Linked DNA regions of Homo sapiens. The protein of the gene in region 1 interacts with the protein of each later gene in a biochemical or structural test. Each region holds a gene or a part of one and is shown in the gene's direction. Other genes may lie near its edges.

Region 1 (7,473 bases):
CAGCAATATCTTCAAGGATTTGGGCCTAAACAATGGAAAGAATAGAACTGCAAAACTCAATTCTATCAGGAAGGAAGAGAAGGTTAAGGGAGAAGATCAGGTCAGTTCTGGACATGTTAAGTTTGTGGTACTTGTACTTGGAAGTACAAGTCTGGAGTTCCGGGAAGTGTATGATCTTGAGAGTCATCAGCACAAAGGTGGTCTTCATAGATGGTATCTGAATCTGGTAGGGAGCCAGGAGACTGGATGAGATCACCTAGGGAGACAGAAAACTAGAAGAGGCCCAGGGAATAACCATGGACACTACAATGGTAAGAGGTTGGAGAGATGAAGAGTAACCAACAGGGAGGCAGAGAGGGAGGGGCCTGGGGCAACGAGGGGCTCCATATCTCCCGAACCATATATTTACAAATAATCTCCAAGAGTGGATTACTCTTGCTTATTTCTTTTTTTTTTTTTTTTTTCTCACTCTGGTCTCACCTTGTCACCCTGGCTGGATTGCAGTGGCATGATTATGGCTCGTTGCAGCCTCAACCTCCTGGGCTCAAGTGATCCTCCCACGTCAGCCTCCCAAGTAGCTGGGGCAACAGGTGTGCATCACCACGGCCTGCTAATTTTTGTATTTTTTCATAGGGATGGGGTTTCCCTATGTTGCCCAGGCTGATCTTGAACTCCTGGGATCAAGTGATTCTCCCACCTTGGCCTCCCAAAGTGCTGGGAGTACAGGCATGAGCCACCGCTGCACCTGGCACTCTTGCTTATCTCTATGGCTACAGTGGCCTATTGCCTTCTTTGTGTTTGGACACATTATCAGGGCCAACCTCGGAGTTCACCTTTTAAGGTCACAAGTCCCTATGACTGAAGTGTGAATGACTGACAGGTTTATCCTTCTCAGGGGGTATACAATGAAAGAAAATCCCTTTAATAAAATGAATCTCTATTTGATGAAATACTGTAGGAAAAAGGGTCATTTCCCAGAGGGAACTATCTGTATCCCTGGCATGCTGCAGTTCACTGTAGTGATGATGGTACCACCCTGGTCAGTATCAACCCTTGGGAAACCATTGGGAAGGAGAAACAAGCTCTTGGGGGAGCATCAATACTGCTTTGGGCTGTAAGGTCTTAGAGGCCAGGAAAAGTATCTGGGACCCAAGCATAGCTCATAATGCCTGAGCAGGTGCACACTGCCTTACCTTAAGCAGGATAAAGCAAGAAGTGGGCAGGCAGCTTCCTGACACTGTCTTTAAACTCAGCTTCTGCCCACCACACTTCTGGTTCCCTTCCACCTAACCACTTCTCTGTCTCCGTTGCAATTTCTCCTTTTTCTCAAGCTCCAGCCTAGTGCCCCAGCCTCCCTTTCCACAAATGGTGTTAGATTGTCAACATTGCAGAAATGGTGAGTTCAGTTCTTTCCACCAAGGTCTTCGCGGTTCCATGAGAAACCTGTTGTCTCTTCCCATTTTCCTTTCACTACTCACCAGCACCAAATCCCCAGTCAGCAAACCAGAGAGTACAAAAGCAGGGACTTTTACACTAGGGTTCCTCTTCCCCATACCCACAATTGCCTCCTCGACTAAGGAAGGTGATGGGAAAATGACAATGACACCAATAGGACAATGGGACAAAAGCATGGACAGGAAACTCACAAAAGCATGGACAGGAAACACGAATAGCCATTAAACAGTTAAAAAGAATGTTGACATTTAACAACAAATGTGCAGTTTAAAGGAGCAATAAGAGACCATTTCATCTATCAAAGTGGCGAGGATTCTAATGTGGAGGGTTGGCGAGAGTAAGGACACAGGCAGACACTACTAACTGGAGTAGAAAGGCCTCACTGCTTTCTGGAGAATGGCTTGGCAACACATAGAGACCAAGAGCTTTAAAACAAGTCTATGTCTTCACCCTTTCACTCAGGGGTTTCACTTCTAGAATTTAGCCTAAGGCAATAATTAGCCATGCAAATATGTAAGTTCAAGGATATTTACCGAAGGTCTGGGCGCGGTGGCTCACACCTATAATCCTAGCACTTTGGGAGGCCGAAAGAGGTGGTCAGATTACCTGAGGTCAGGAGTTCGAGACCAGCCTGGATAACATGATGAAACCCCGTCTCTACTAAAAATACAAAAATCAGCCAGGCATGTGCCTGTAATCCCAGCTACTCAGGAGGCTGAGGCAGGAGTAGCTTGAACCCAGGAAGCAGAGGTTGCCGTGAACCGAGATCACACAACTGCACTCCATCCTGGACAACAGAGTGAGACTCCATCTCAAAAAAAAAAAAAAAGAAGAAGAAAAAGAAAAAAAAGAATATTTACCACAGCTCAGTTTATTATATGTTTAAAAATTGAAGGCCAGGTGTGGTGGTACACACCTGTAATCCCAGAGCTTTGGGAGGCCGAGGAAGGAGGTTGCCGTGAGCCCAGGAATTCAAGGTTATAGTGAGCTATGTGCGTGCCACTGCACTCCAGCCTGAGTGACAGAGCAAGACCCTGTCTCTAAAAAAACAGAAAGCAAATTGAGACCCACCTAAACATGCTATAATAGGAAATTGGTTTAAATGAACTAGTAGAATACTGGGTGACCATTATAAATGATGCTGGCTCACGGGCTTCCTAATGTGATACACTGGTACTCGTGCCCAAAAATGCATAAACACCAGACATACTCAAATTTAGGAACAGTCTACAAAACAACTGTCCTGTATGCTTAAAAATGCCAGTATCGGCCAGGTGCGGTGGCTCACGCCTGTAATCCCAGCACTTTGGGAGGCCAAGATGGGTGGATTGCCTAAGCTCAGGAGTTTGAGACCAGCCTGGGCACCATGGTGAAACCCTGTCTCTACTAAAATACAAAAAGTCAGCCAGGCGTGGTGGTGGGCGCCTGTAATCCCAGCTACTCAGGAGGCTGAGGCACGAGAATTGCTTGAACCCAGGCGGTGGAGGTTGCAGTGAGCCAAGGTCGTGCCACTGCAATCCAGCCTGGACTGTCTCAAAAAAAAAAAAAAAAAAGTCAATATAATGAAAGGCAAAGTACATTTAAGGTACTGTACTCATATTAAAGGAAACTAAAAAGACTCGACAGCTAAATGCAATGCAGGATGCCAAATGAGATCCTAGACCAAAGGAAAAAATTGTCATGAAGGACATTATGGGGCAATTGGCAGGACCTGAATTTGGACTGTCAATTAGATCATAGTATTACATCGGTCTAAGTTTCCTGATTTGGATAATTGTACTATATTATGTAAAAGAATGTTTTGTTCTTAGAAAATTTGCACTGATGGATTTAAGGGTAAAGGGTATCTTGTATGCAACTTACTCTCAAATGGTTCAGAAAAAAATACAAATGTGTATTTATAGAGAAATAATGATAAAGTAAATGTGGTCAAATGATATTAGTGGATGAATCTGAGTGAAGGGTATCCTGGAATTCTTTTTAGTATTTTTGCCCCTTTCCCATGAGATTAAAAGTATTTTAAAATAAAAAGCTAAAAAAAGGAAGAAAGTGGTGCTGGTGAAGTATATTCCCCGGTAGGGGAAGGCTCTCAGGTGCACCAGCAGCAGCCATGAGTGCCTCAACACCAGGGAGAGCACAGCTGCCACTGACACCTTCTGCCACCCTGGACTCTCAGTTCCCTGTGCTACTAAAGGAACTCAGTGTGTGGTTGACCCCAAAGTTGTCCTGGGTTGACTCAAGAAGGTAGGATGAGCATTCTGAGGCAAAGAATTCTCTTTTGTGATTTTATTGACTCCAATTTTGCATTCTGACTGGCATTCCCTGCATCCCAAGGACCTTGACAGCGGAGGGAGGCAGAGATGGAGGAAGTGAAAACTACCCAAATTCAGTGTTTGTTACAGACAATTCAGACTGCAAAATTTAGGGTAGACTATGTTCATTTATCACTGATAATGACAGTCTTAACATTCCCCTACAACAGGAAGACCAAGATTTCCCCAAAACCGGCCAGCATCTTGCCCATTTGCCAGAAGGAGAAAAATAAGTCCTGGCAAGAGCCAAGATAAGGCCCAGAAGCCCCTGGGTTCCTTTAGCCAAGGTGAGTGGTTTCAAATTATGACAAGTTGCAGGTTCTCTGAGAAGCATCTGTAATAACCTGGCAAATTAAGCATCCTCTCCTGGGAGGAGGAATACAGAACTCTGTAACCACCCAATACCTGTTTCCAGGTCCTGCCCCTCCTGGGGCACAGGGCAGCCACCTTGCAATTCTCATCCCTAGAAAGGAGAGACCAGATCAACAAACAGCAGGGCTGGGACTGCCCAGGGGGTTCCGAGATTCCTTCTCCCCTCCTATCACCTGCCCTCCAGGCACACCGTCCTACTTCCCCCTACTTCCCCAGGGGTTGTCAGGGACAGAAGGCCCCTCCTTCATCCCCCCTAGTGTTCCTCCACTCTTCCTCCGCCCCCCATTACTAGGGTGTCCAGGACATTGTGTGACTCAGGAAACAGCTCAGACGTGAGGCTTGCAGCAGGCCGAGGAGGAAGAAGAGGGGCAGTGGGAGCAGAGGAGGTGGCTCCTGCCCCAGTGAGAGCTCTGAGGGTCCCTGCCTGAAGAGGGACAGGGACCGGGGCTTGGAGAAGGGGCTGTGGAATGCAGCCCCCTTCACTGCTGCTGCTGCTGCTGCTGCTGCTGCTGCTATGTGTCTCAGTGGTCAGACCCAGAGGTGAGGCATGGCGTGGGTGAGGTGAGGGGACCCAGCTCCCTTAGGAGGATGATCAGTGGGGTGGGGGAAGAGGGCCAAGCCCCAGGCCGTGTGAGGGATGCTGGATGGAGGAGATTCTCACTGCCCAAATAGAGACGGCCTCCAGGGAAAGACGGCTCTGCCCATGGAGCTGCTTCGGGCCTGGTGCCAGGGGTGGTGACTGCTGGGGGATGGGTGAGAGGGTGCCCACCTCCAGGAAGAACCTCGTCAGCACTGGCACTGGAGGACTCTTGCAGCCATAGGGAAGAGGGGAAGAGGGAACACACTGACCACCTGCTTGGGGAGGAGATGAGAGGGAAGCAGGAGATGGGGACATGAAAGGTCAGGCCTACTAAGCCCTTTCTTAGTCCAGCTGTCCCCACCCCCCGGATGGCTCAATGCTCGGCCTTTCCGGGAGGAAATCTCTTCGAAGTCTCAGCCATTCACCTCCCGGGAGCCACCTCCGCCCCTCTTCTGACCCCTGTTGTCTTGCTTCCGAGAGATGGAGTCCGAGGCTGGACTTGGGAGGCCAGAGAATAAACAGGAAAGGGGGGTAGGGATTAGTAACTGGGACGGAGGGCACTGGGGCTGGGGCTGGGTACCATGTGGAGAGTGGGGACAGATGTGAAGAAGAGGTGGTTTAGAGTACCTGTGGGAGCTGCTGTGGGCAGGTCTCTCAGGAGCACCTAGAAGAGGAAAGGTGGAGGCACAGCACCCAGGGCTTCCATTGCGCCTGCCTCTCCACCCTCAGGGCTGCTGTGTGGGAGTTTCCCAGAACCCTGTGCCAATGGAGGCACCTGCCTGAGCCTGTCTCTGGGACAAGGGACCTGCCAGTGAGTGTGCCTTGCAGGAGTGGGAGACTGGAGAGAAAGGGGGAGGGAGAGCAGGGGGGGAGAGGTGAGGAAGTGAGACCAAAGAAGAAAGAGAGGAAGTGAAGGAGATGAAGGGAAACAAATGAAGGCAGAGGAGGGAGTGGGCAAGAATAGGAAGAGGGACCAGTGATGTGAGTTTTCCTCTCCTCCCCTGCCCAGGTGTGCCCCTGGCTTCCTGGGTGAGACGTGCCAGTTTCCTGACCCCTGCCAGAACGCCCAGCTCTGCCAAAATGGAGGCAGCTGCCAAGCCCTGCTTCCCGCTCCCCTAGGGCTCCCCAGCTCTCCCTCTCCATTGACACCCAGCTTCTTGTGCACTTGCCTCCCTGGCTTCACTGGTGAGAGATGCCAGGCCAAGCTTGAAGACCCTTGTCCTCCCTCCTTCTGTTCCAAAAGGGGCCGCTGCCACATCCAGGCCTCGGGCCGCCCACAGTGCTCCTGCATGCCTGGATGGACAGGTAAGCGCTGCTGGGGGCAGCCAGGAGGGGACAGGCAGGAGCAATGGGCTAGGCTGTGGGTGGGGAAGATAGAACTGGAGCCTGAGAAACTGCAAGCCCTTTGAAGACAGAAGCCATGAGAATCAACATGCCAATTCTTGGCAATCCACTTACCCACAACCAACATTCACCAGCATGGTTGTACTGATTGCTAAAATGTTAAAATATTTCCAAATTAAGGGTGCCATGAGCCCCCTTTGTGCACCATCCTGATGCCTGTTCTAGCCCCTTTAATCTCCCCATTGCCTAGCAGCTAGAAGAGGGTCATTGCTCTGCATACCAGGGGTCCTCCAGACTTTTGCATTCTGAGCATCTGAATGGCTCCCATTCTGAGTGGAGGGAGCCATTATATCACCTGGGAAGACTGCAGTGGTGGGAGGGGCACCGGGAAGGGAAGGATGTGACCCAGAGAGTGGATTGGGGGCCGCCCCAGGAGGAGGGGTGTAACCCTGGGGCAAGCTTAGTGCTTCATTCTAGGGGCTCTGCACCAGCCCCTGGATCCAAATGCTAGCTCTGCCACTGATCAGCTACATGACCTCATATAAGATATTTTAGCTTTCTGGTGTTCAGTTGTCAGCTGACAAACAGGGAGAGTAATGGTCACACTTCATAAGGTTGCTGAGAGGACAGAAGGGGCCGATGCTCAGGAGATGCTTGCTCAGCTCAGCACCTGGCACCTCCACTGCTGCCGCCATTACCACTGGTGCACATGGACTGTGAAGTGAGTCTCCAGGTGCCTAAACCCACTTAAAGATTAGGAAATGAGGATCAGAAAGGCAAAGTGGCTCACCCAAGGGTATACAACCAGTTGTGGCACAGCATGGTGCCACCTGAGTCTCCTGCCTGCAGACGTGGGGTGCTTTTCACCTCCCCCAAGATCACCCACGTCCCAGATTTTCTCAGGCAAGGCCAATTTGCAATACTCTCATCATCACTTTAGAAGATATGGTCACTCCAGATAAACCCTCCCAAGCCATGACATCGCTCAGAGCAGGGGTGATGGAACAGAGCAAAGAAAGTATGGTAATAAAGGGAAGGAAATATGAAAATGAGACCCAGAGATAATCCAGAGTGAGCACTGGGTAACCTCAGATGGGCTAGAATTCGTACAATGCTAGAAACGGCTCCCTCTGTCCTCTGCCTCAGGTGAGCAGTGCCAGCTTCGGGACTTCTGTTCAGCCAACCCATGTGTTAATGGAGGGGTGTGTCTGGCCACATACCCCCAGATCCAGTGCCACTGCCCACCGGGCTTCGAGGGCCATGCCTGTGAACGTGATGTCAACGAGTGCTTCCAGGACCCAGGACCCTGCCCCAAAGGCACCTCCTGCCATAACACCCTGGGCTCCTTCCAGTGCCTCTGCCCTGTGGGGCAGGAGGGTCCACGTTGTGAGCTGCGGGCAGGACCCTGCC
Region 2 (7,024 bases), on another chromosome or scaffold:
AAAGATAATAATGAGGGCTGTTACTTGGAACATTTTCTAATAACATGCTATAGATGCTTAGGGTTTATGGGAAGGGGGGATGGTACTGGGGGTGGGGGATAAAGGACAAAAACGTAATAAAGTAAACACAGGAAAGGAGCAGCATGTGTTTGGAAGCTGAGCATAGGCACTCCCTCTGAGCAGTGGAGTTGAGTCCTGACTGCAGCACATGCAGGTGAGGAAGCAGTAGAAGGAGTCCGTCTTCTGTCCCCTTCCCATCCCTTCTGACATGTTCTTATCTTGAAATCGCCGCCCCTGAACTCCCAGGGTACTTACTGTGTGCTGCTCTCACTCTGTAGCCCTGTCTGTGTATGTCCCATGTCCTGAAAGCCCACCCGAGGAGGAGCTGTCTTCTTTGTCTTTATGTTCCCCACAGCACTTGTCTCTGGCACAAGGCAGAATCTTAATAACTTCAGTGGCATGAATCCATCGAGGAGCAGATGGGAAGCAGAGTCACAGTGTCACACCAGACAGATTATGTTCAAGCAAATAGTCCCAATAAGAAGTAGTGAGGGGCCGGCCGGGCGCAGTGGCTCACACCTGTAATCCCAGCCCTTTGGGAGACTGAGGTGGGCAAATCACCTGAGGTCTGGAGTTCAAGACCAGTCTGACCAACATGGAGAAACCCCGTCTCTACTAAAAATACAAAATTAGCTGGGCATGGTGGCACATGCCTGTAATCCCAGCTACTCTGGAGGCTGAGGCAGGAGAATGGCTTGAACCCTGGAGGCGGAGGTTGCTGTGAGCCAAGATCACGCCATTGCACTCCAGCCTGGGCAACAAGAGCGAAACTCTGTCTCAAAAAAAAAAAAAGTGAGGGGCTGGGCACAGTGGCTCATGCCTGTAATCCCAGCACTTTGGGAGGCTGAGACGGGTGAATCACTTGAGGCCAGGAGTTTGTGACCAGCCTGGCCAACATGGTGAAACCCCGTCCCTACCAAAAAATACCGGAAGTTAGCCAGGCACAGTGGTGCACATCTGTAATCCCAGCTACTTGGGAGGTTGAGGCATGAGAATTGATTGAACTCAGGAGACGGAGGTTGCAGTTAGCTGAGATTGTGCCACCGCACTCCACCCAGCCTGGCGGCAGAGCAAGGCTCCATCTCAAAACATATATATATATATAATATATATATGTGTGTGTGTGTGTGTGTGTGTGTACTCTCTGGCATTTTTTTGTTGGCTCCATTCTTGGGCATACCGCCAGACGAGATGGCTGTGGGCAGCCTCATGCCTGTCTCCTGCAGAAAGAGGACTGCAGAAGCACTTTAGCTAGACATCAGTTCTGACTGGCCAGGTATAGGACCGTCAGGGAAAATGGAGGTGTGTCCCCAGAAATGGGAGTGTACACTATGCAAGCAGAACCCACTGGCGAGCATTGCAGGGACATCAGCCCTTGGCTTGTTACTGTCATAGCAGAGCAAATTCATATGTATCTTAAGTCATTCTTTTCAATGTTTTTCAGCATCTTCATGATACAGTTAAGAGGAATCTTGACAGCGCCACTTCCCCTCAGAATGGCGATCAACAGAATGGCTACGGGGACCTCTTTCCTGGGCATAAGAAGACTCGCCGGGAGGCCCCTCTGGGAGTTGCCATCTCTTCCAATGGACTGCCTCCAGCCTCCCCCCTCGGTCAGTCTGACAAGCCTTCTGGAGCCGACGCCCTGCAGTCCAGTGGGAAGCACTCTCTGGGGCTAGACTCTCTCAACAAAAAGCGTCTGGCTGACTCCAGCCTTCACTTGAATGGAGGCAGTAACCCCAGTGAGTCATTTCCTCTGAGCCTGAATAAAGAACTGAAGCAGGAGCCTGTCGAAGACCTGCCTTGCATGATCACTGGGACTGTCGGCTCCATATCGCAAAGCAACCTCATGCCAGACCTCAACCTTAACGAGCAGGAGTGGAAGGAGCTCATCGAGGAGCTGAACAGGTCGGTGCCCGATGAAGACATGAAGGACCTGTTTAATGAGGACTTCGAGGAGAAGAAGGACCCAGAGTCTTCTGGCTCTGCCACACAAACCCCCTTGGCACAGGACATTAATATTAAGACGGAATTCTCTCCAGCAGCCTTTGAGCAAGAACAGTTAGGCTCTCCACAAGTGAGGGCCGGGTCTGCAGGGCAGACCTTTCTGGGGCCTTCCTCTGCCCCTGTGAGTACAGATTCCCCCAGCCTAGGGGGCTCCCAAACCTTATTCCACACCTCTGGTCAGCCCCGGGCGGACAATCCCAGTCCAAACCTGATGCCGGCATCAGCCCAGGCCCAGAACGCACAAAGAGCCCTTGCAGGTGTGGTATTGCCCAGTCAGGGCCCAGGAGGGGCCTCAGAGCTGTCCTCTGCCCACCAGCTCCAGCAGATCGCTGCCAAGCAGAAGCGCGAGCAGATGCTCCAGAACCCACAGCAGGCCACCCCGGCACCAGCCCCGGGCCAGATGTCCACATGGCAGCAGACGGGGCCCTCCCACAGTTCCTTAGATGTCCCTTACCCCATGGAGAAGCCTGCCAGCCCTTCCAGCTACAAGCAAGACTTCACTAACTCCAAACTGCTCATGATGCCTAGTGTGAATAAGAGTTCCCCTCGGCCCGGAGGCCCCTACCTCCAGCCCAGCCATGTGAACCTGCTGAGTCACCAGCCACCGAGTAACTTGAATCAGAACTCCGCGAATAACCAGGGGTCTGTGCTGGACTACGGCAATACAAAACCCCTTTCTCATTACAAAGCGGACTGTGGGCAAGGCAGCCCGGGGTCTGGCCAGAGCAAGCCAGCCCTGATGGCTTATCTTCCCCAGCAGCTGTCCCATATAAGTCACGAGCAGAACTCCCTGTTTCTGATGAAGCCAAAGCCAGGAAATATGCCTTTCCGATCACTGGTTCCACCTGGCCAGGTAAGTATGAGCCTTTGCTTTCTGTTCCTCTGCTGCAGACACTTCAGTGAGGTTACTCACTACTTTGGATGTTAATTGGATCCGAGGTAGTTGTGGGAAGAGGGAGGAGGGAATAGCTGCTGTCATCCTTGCTCCTCTTGGGAGTGGAAATTTATAAAATAAACCAGGGTTGATTGTTAATAAAAAATAGGGTAAAGTTCCCTGGCATAGCTTGATTATTAACTGCACGAAGGTTTCAGGAATCACCTGCATTTAGTCCACTGTCTCTTTCGTGCCGTAGGATTTAAATTAAGTAATTTGCGACTGTGTTTTGCAGATAAACATTACGTTTCACGTGCTTCTTAGAGGCTTGGCTTTTTTTTTTTTTTTTTTTTTTTACTACCTTTCAGATCTCCATGTACAAAATTCCCTAATTTTTGGTAAGCTTATAACATTGTAGGCATGTGCTGCTTCCCAGCACAGCTCAGCTCTGTGCTTACTTCATCATGGTTCTAAAGCCCGGTAGCATCAAATGGAAAATGGCCCTTCGGGTTGTTTCCTGTTTTCCGCTAGTGCAGATAAGCCTGCAGTGAACGTGAATTTGTAATACATGCTAAAATTTTGCAAATTAAAAAGCCCAGTGCCGGTAATATCATGAGGAAATAGACACACTCCTGTATTGATGAGAGTGTGTAAATGAGCTCACTGCTTTTGGGAAGTCATTTGACATTATGTATTTTTCACATGCTGTAAAATGTTCATATGCATTGACACACTATATACCCGACAAGTTGATCTAAAGAAATAATCCAAAATAAAAGAAAAAGTTATATCCAAGATATTCATTGTGTGGTTATTTCTAATAGCCAAAAACTGTAAGCCATTTAAGCATCTCCCAGTGCTGATAATTCCACTTACTTCAGCCAGTAAGATGTCTCACGCCGTTCAGCACCCCCTGAAGAGAGGCTCAGCTGCACACAGTGAGGGTGCTTGCCATCTGGGTAGCACTTTGCAACTTACGAAGCACTCTCAGTAGTTCTTAAGCTTCTGGTGATTAGAGTGAAGAAATTATACCAGAATCTTAGAATGAATAACTAGAAAGGAGCTCAACAATTTGAACTGGTTTAAATAATGATTGCTTTTTGCCTATCTTCTGCTAAGTTCCCCTTTTCTTCTAAGTGTCAGTAATGACGGGATAATATTGTGGTGGCCTTTGACATGACTCTCACTTGTGGTCTATATATTGACAGAGAATATCTGTTAAAGTTCTCATTGATTCTCAGTATTTTTTGAGGATGGGTATTTGACAAAAGCTAAGCAGTCTCTTCCAGTAAAATGCTTGCGCAGATGTACAGTTTCGGGTCGTTCAGGGATAGCCCGAAATCCAAGGTTTATGCACATGGGACAGAGTGGTCTCCATTGACCAAAGCCCCCTTCAAAGTGTTCTTCCCCTAGGCCGGGTGCAGTGGCTCATGCCTGTAATCCCAGCACTTTGAGAGGCCGAGGTGGGTGGAGCACCTGAGGTCGGGAGTTCGAGACCAGCGTGACCAACATGGAGAAACCCCCATCTCTACTAAAAATACAAAATTAGCCAGGTGTGGTGGCACATGCCTCTAATCCCAGCTACTCAGGAGGCTGAGGCAGGGGAATCGCTTGAATTCGGGAGGCAGAGGTTGCGGTGAGCCAAGATCGTGCCATTGCACTCCAGCCTGGGCAACAAGAGCGAAACTCCGTCTGAAAAAAAACAAAAAGTATTCTTCCCCTATTGGCCCGCTCTGCACTCAGATGTCCTGATAAGTGAGCATTTCTAAGCCTCGATTGCTTACTGGAACTATTGTGTGCAAATATGAAAGCTTACATATGCTTAACGTAAAACCATACCTTTGTCACTGGTGAATCACTGGGAGTAAAACTAACACCTATGGAGTAATTGTTCGTTGCTAGGCGCCTGTATGCTCAGATGTCATCACTTTTGGTCTGTGCTCCAGCCCTGTGGGATGGTTGTTATTCGAGGTCAGAAGGGAAGCAGAGACTTGGCTTCAAGAGAGTGAACCTTGAATTCACTGGATGGAGCTTATTTGGTCTGATCAGAGCTTAGAGACTTCACAGTCCCCTATCTGTGTTGACAGGAGCAGAACCCTTCCAGTGTCCCTGTGCAAGCCCAGGCTACCAGTGTTGGGACCCAGCCGCCTGCCGTGTCCGTGGCCAGCTCCCACAACAGCTCCCCCTATCTCAGCAGCCAGCAACAGGCCGCTGTAATGAAGCAGCATCAGTTGCTTTTGGACCAACAGAAACAAAGGGAGCAGCAGCAAAAGCATTTACAGCAACAGCAGTTCCTTCAGAGGCAACAGCACCTTCTCGCGGAACAGGTAAAAAGAAAAGTGGAAGGAAACCACCGCTTCCCACCTTTGCCTGCACCCTGCGTCACTGCTACAGTCACACCTTCTGCTTGTGCGTGTGGATTTGCGCAGACTTGCGTGCCTGTTGTTAGAGTGCTTTGCCTTTTAAAAACATCTTTCCAGGAATGTGGCATTTCTCAGACAGGGGTAGTCTTGTCAGAAGCTGCTTCGTGTCACTTAGTGGAGAGTACTCAAGGCAGACTCGGGGGCTAAAACTGTTTGTGGAAGGGACATTTTCCTATGTTTCAGGTCAGCAGCTTCCAAGCCACTGAGCTCACGTGTCTGTCATTCCACTATGGAGTCAGCTTTGCTGCCACTACAGAGCCTGTTATAAGCCAGAACGTGAAGAGGGAAGTGAAGTCATCCCTGAGGGAAACACAGTTCACTCGCTTGGTTAGCAAGTGTAGTGTGCAGGCACTAAGGGTTACAAGTGAGAGTTCTTTTTTTTTTTTGGAGACAGAGTCTTGCTGTCACCCAGGCTGGACTGCAGTGGTGCGATCTTGGCTCACTGCAGCCTCCACCTCATGGGTTCATGCAATTCTCCTGCCTCAGCCTCCCGAGTAGCTGGGACTACAGGCAAGAACCACCATGCCTGGCTAATTTTTGTGTTTTTAGTAGAGATGGGGTTTCACCACGTTGGCCAGGCTGGTCTTGAGCTCCTGACCTCAAGTGATCCACTCATCTCGGCCTCCCAAAGTGCTGAGATTACAGGCGTGAGCCACCACGCCTGGCCTTAAATTACATCTTTAAGACATAAGAACTGGCTCCAGACAGTGAGGTTCATTGAGGACAATCCCTGCCTCAGTTCTGCCTTTAAGAAAAGCAGCTTTATTGTGATGTAACTCACACAGCATACACTTCACCCACGTAAGTGAACAATTTAGTCATTTTTAGTATATCACAGAGTTGTGCAACCATTACCACAATCCATTTTAGAACATTTTCATTACCCTAAAACAAATCCCATACCCATGAGCAGCCATTCTCCCATCCACCCTGCCTCTCCAGCTCCTGATCTACTTTCTGTCTCTATAATTGTCTGCTCTGGGCTGGGCGCAGTGGCTCACTCCTATAATCCCAGCACTTTGGGAGGCCGAGGTGGGCGGATCACGAGGTCAGGAGATCAAGACCATCCTGGCTAACACAGTGAAACCCCGTCTCTACTAAAAATACAAAAAATTAGCCAAGTGTGGTGACGGGCGCCTGTAGTCCCAGCTACTCGGGAGGCCGAGGCAGGAGAATGGCGTGAACCTGGGAGGGGAGCTTGCAGTGAGCAGAGATCGCGCCACTGCACTCCAGCCTGGGCGACAGAGCAAGACTCCATCTCAAAAAAAAAAAATTGTCTGTTCTGGACATTTTATATTTATGTTATGTCATTTTCAATCATGTGCTAGGTAACAGCAATTGATTCCTCTTGATAATAATATTCCATTGTATGGACATGTTACATTTTATTCATTCGTCTGTTCATGAACATTTGGGTTTCTTGTTTGGGCTGTTAATGAGTATTGCTGCTATGAACATTCATGTACAAGTTTTCATATAGACATCTGTTTTCATTTTTCTTGGGTAGATACCTGGGAGTGGAATTGCTGGATCACATGGTAATTTTTATGTTTAACCTTTGGAGGAACTGTCAGACTGTTTCCCACAGGCTGTCTCATTTTACATTCCCACCAGCGGTGTATGAGGGTGCTGATTTCTCTACATCCTCACCAACCACTTG

The links. Proteins that work in one complex are often made in the same cells at the same time.
Region 2: the proteins of NOTCH4 (region 1) and MAML1 form a complex in vitro, tested with the Homo sapiens proteins (one study listed by BioGRID).

Annotation. Positions count from the first base shown.
Region 1 is NC_000006.12:32,221,062-32,228,534, reverse strand, and holds the start of NOTCH4 (neurogenic locus notch homolog protein 4 preproprotein), read left to right. Parts: upstream 1-4,467; 5' UTR 4,468-4,606; coding exon 4,607-4,679; intron 4,680-5,448; coding exon 5,449-5,530; intron 5,531-5,728; coding exon 5,729-6,024; intron 6,025-7,209; coding exon 7,210-7,473. UniProt on the Homo sapiens protein: Functions as a receptor for membrane-bound ligands Jagged1, Jagged2 and Delta1 to regulate cell-fate determination.
Region 2 is NC_000005.10:179,763,822-179,770,845, forward strand, and holds part of MAML1 (mastermind-like protein 1), read left to right. Parts: intron 1-1,504; coding exon 1,505-2,920; intron 2,921-5,028; coding exon 5,029-5,268; intron 5,269-7,024. UniProt on the Homo sapiens protein: Acts as a transcriptional coactivator for NOTCH proteins. Has been shown to amplify NOTCH-induced transcription of HES1. Enhances phosphorylation and proteolytic turnover of the NOTCH intracellular domain in the nucleus through interaction with CDK8.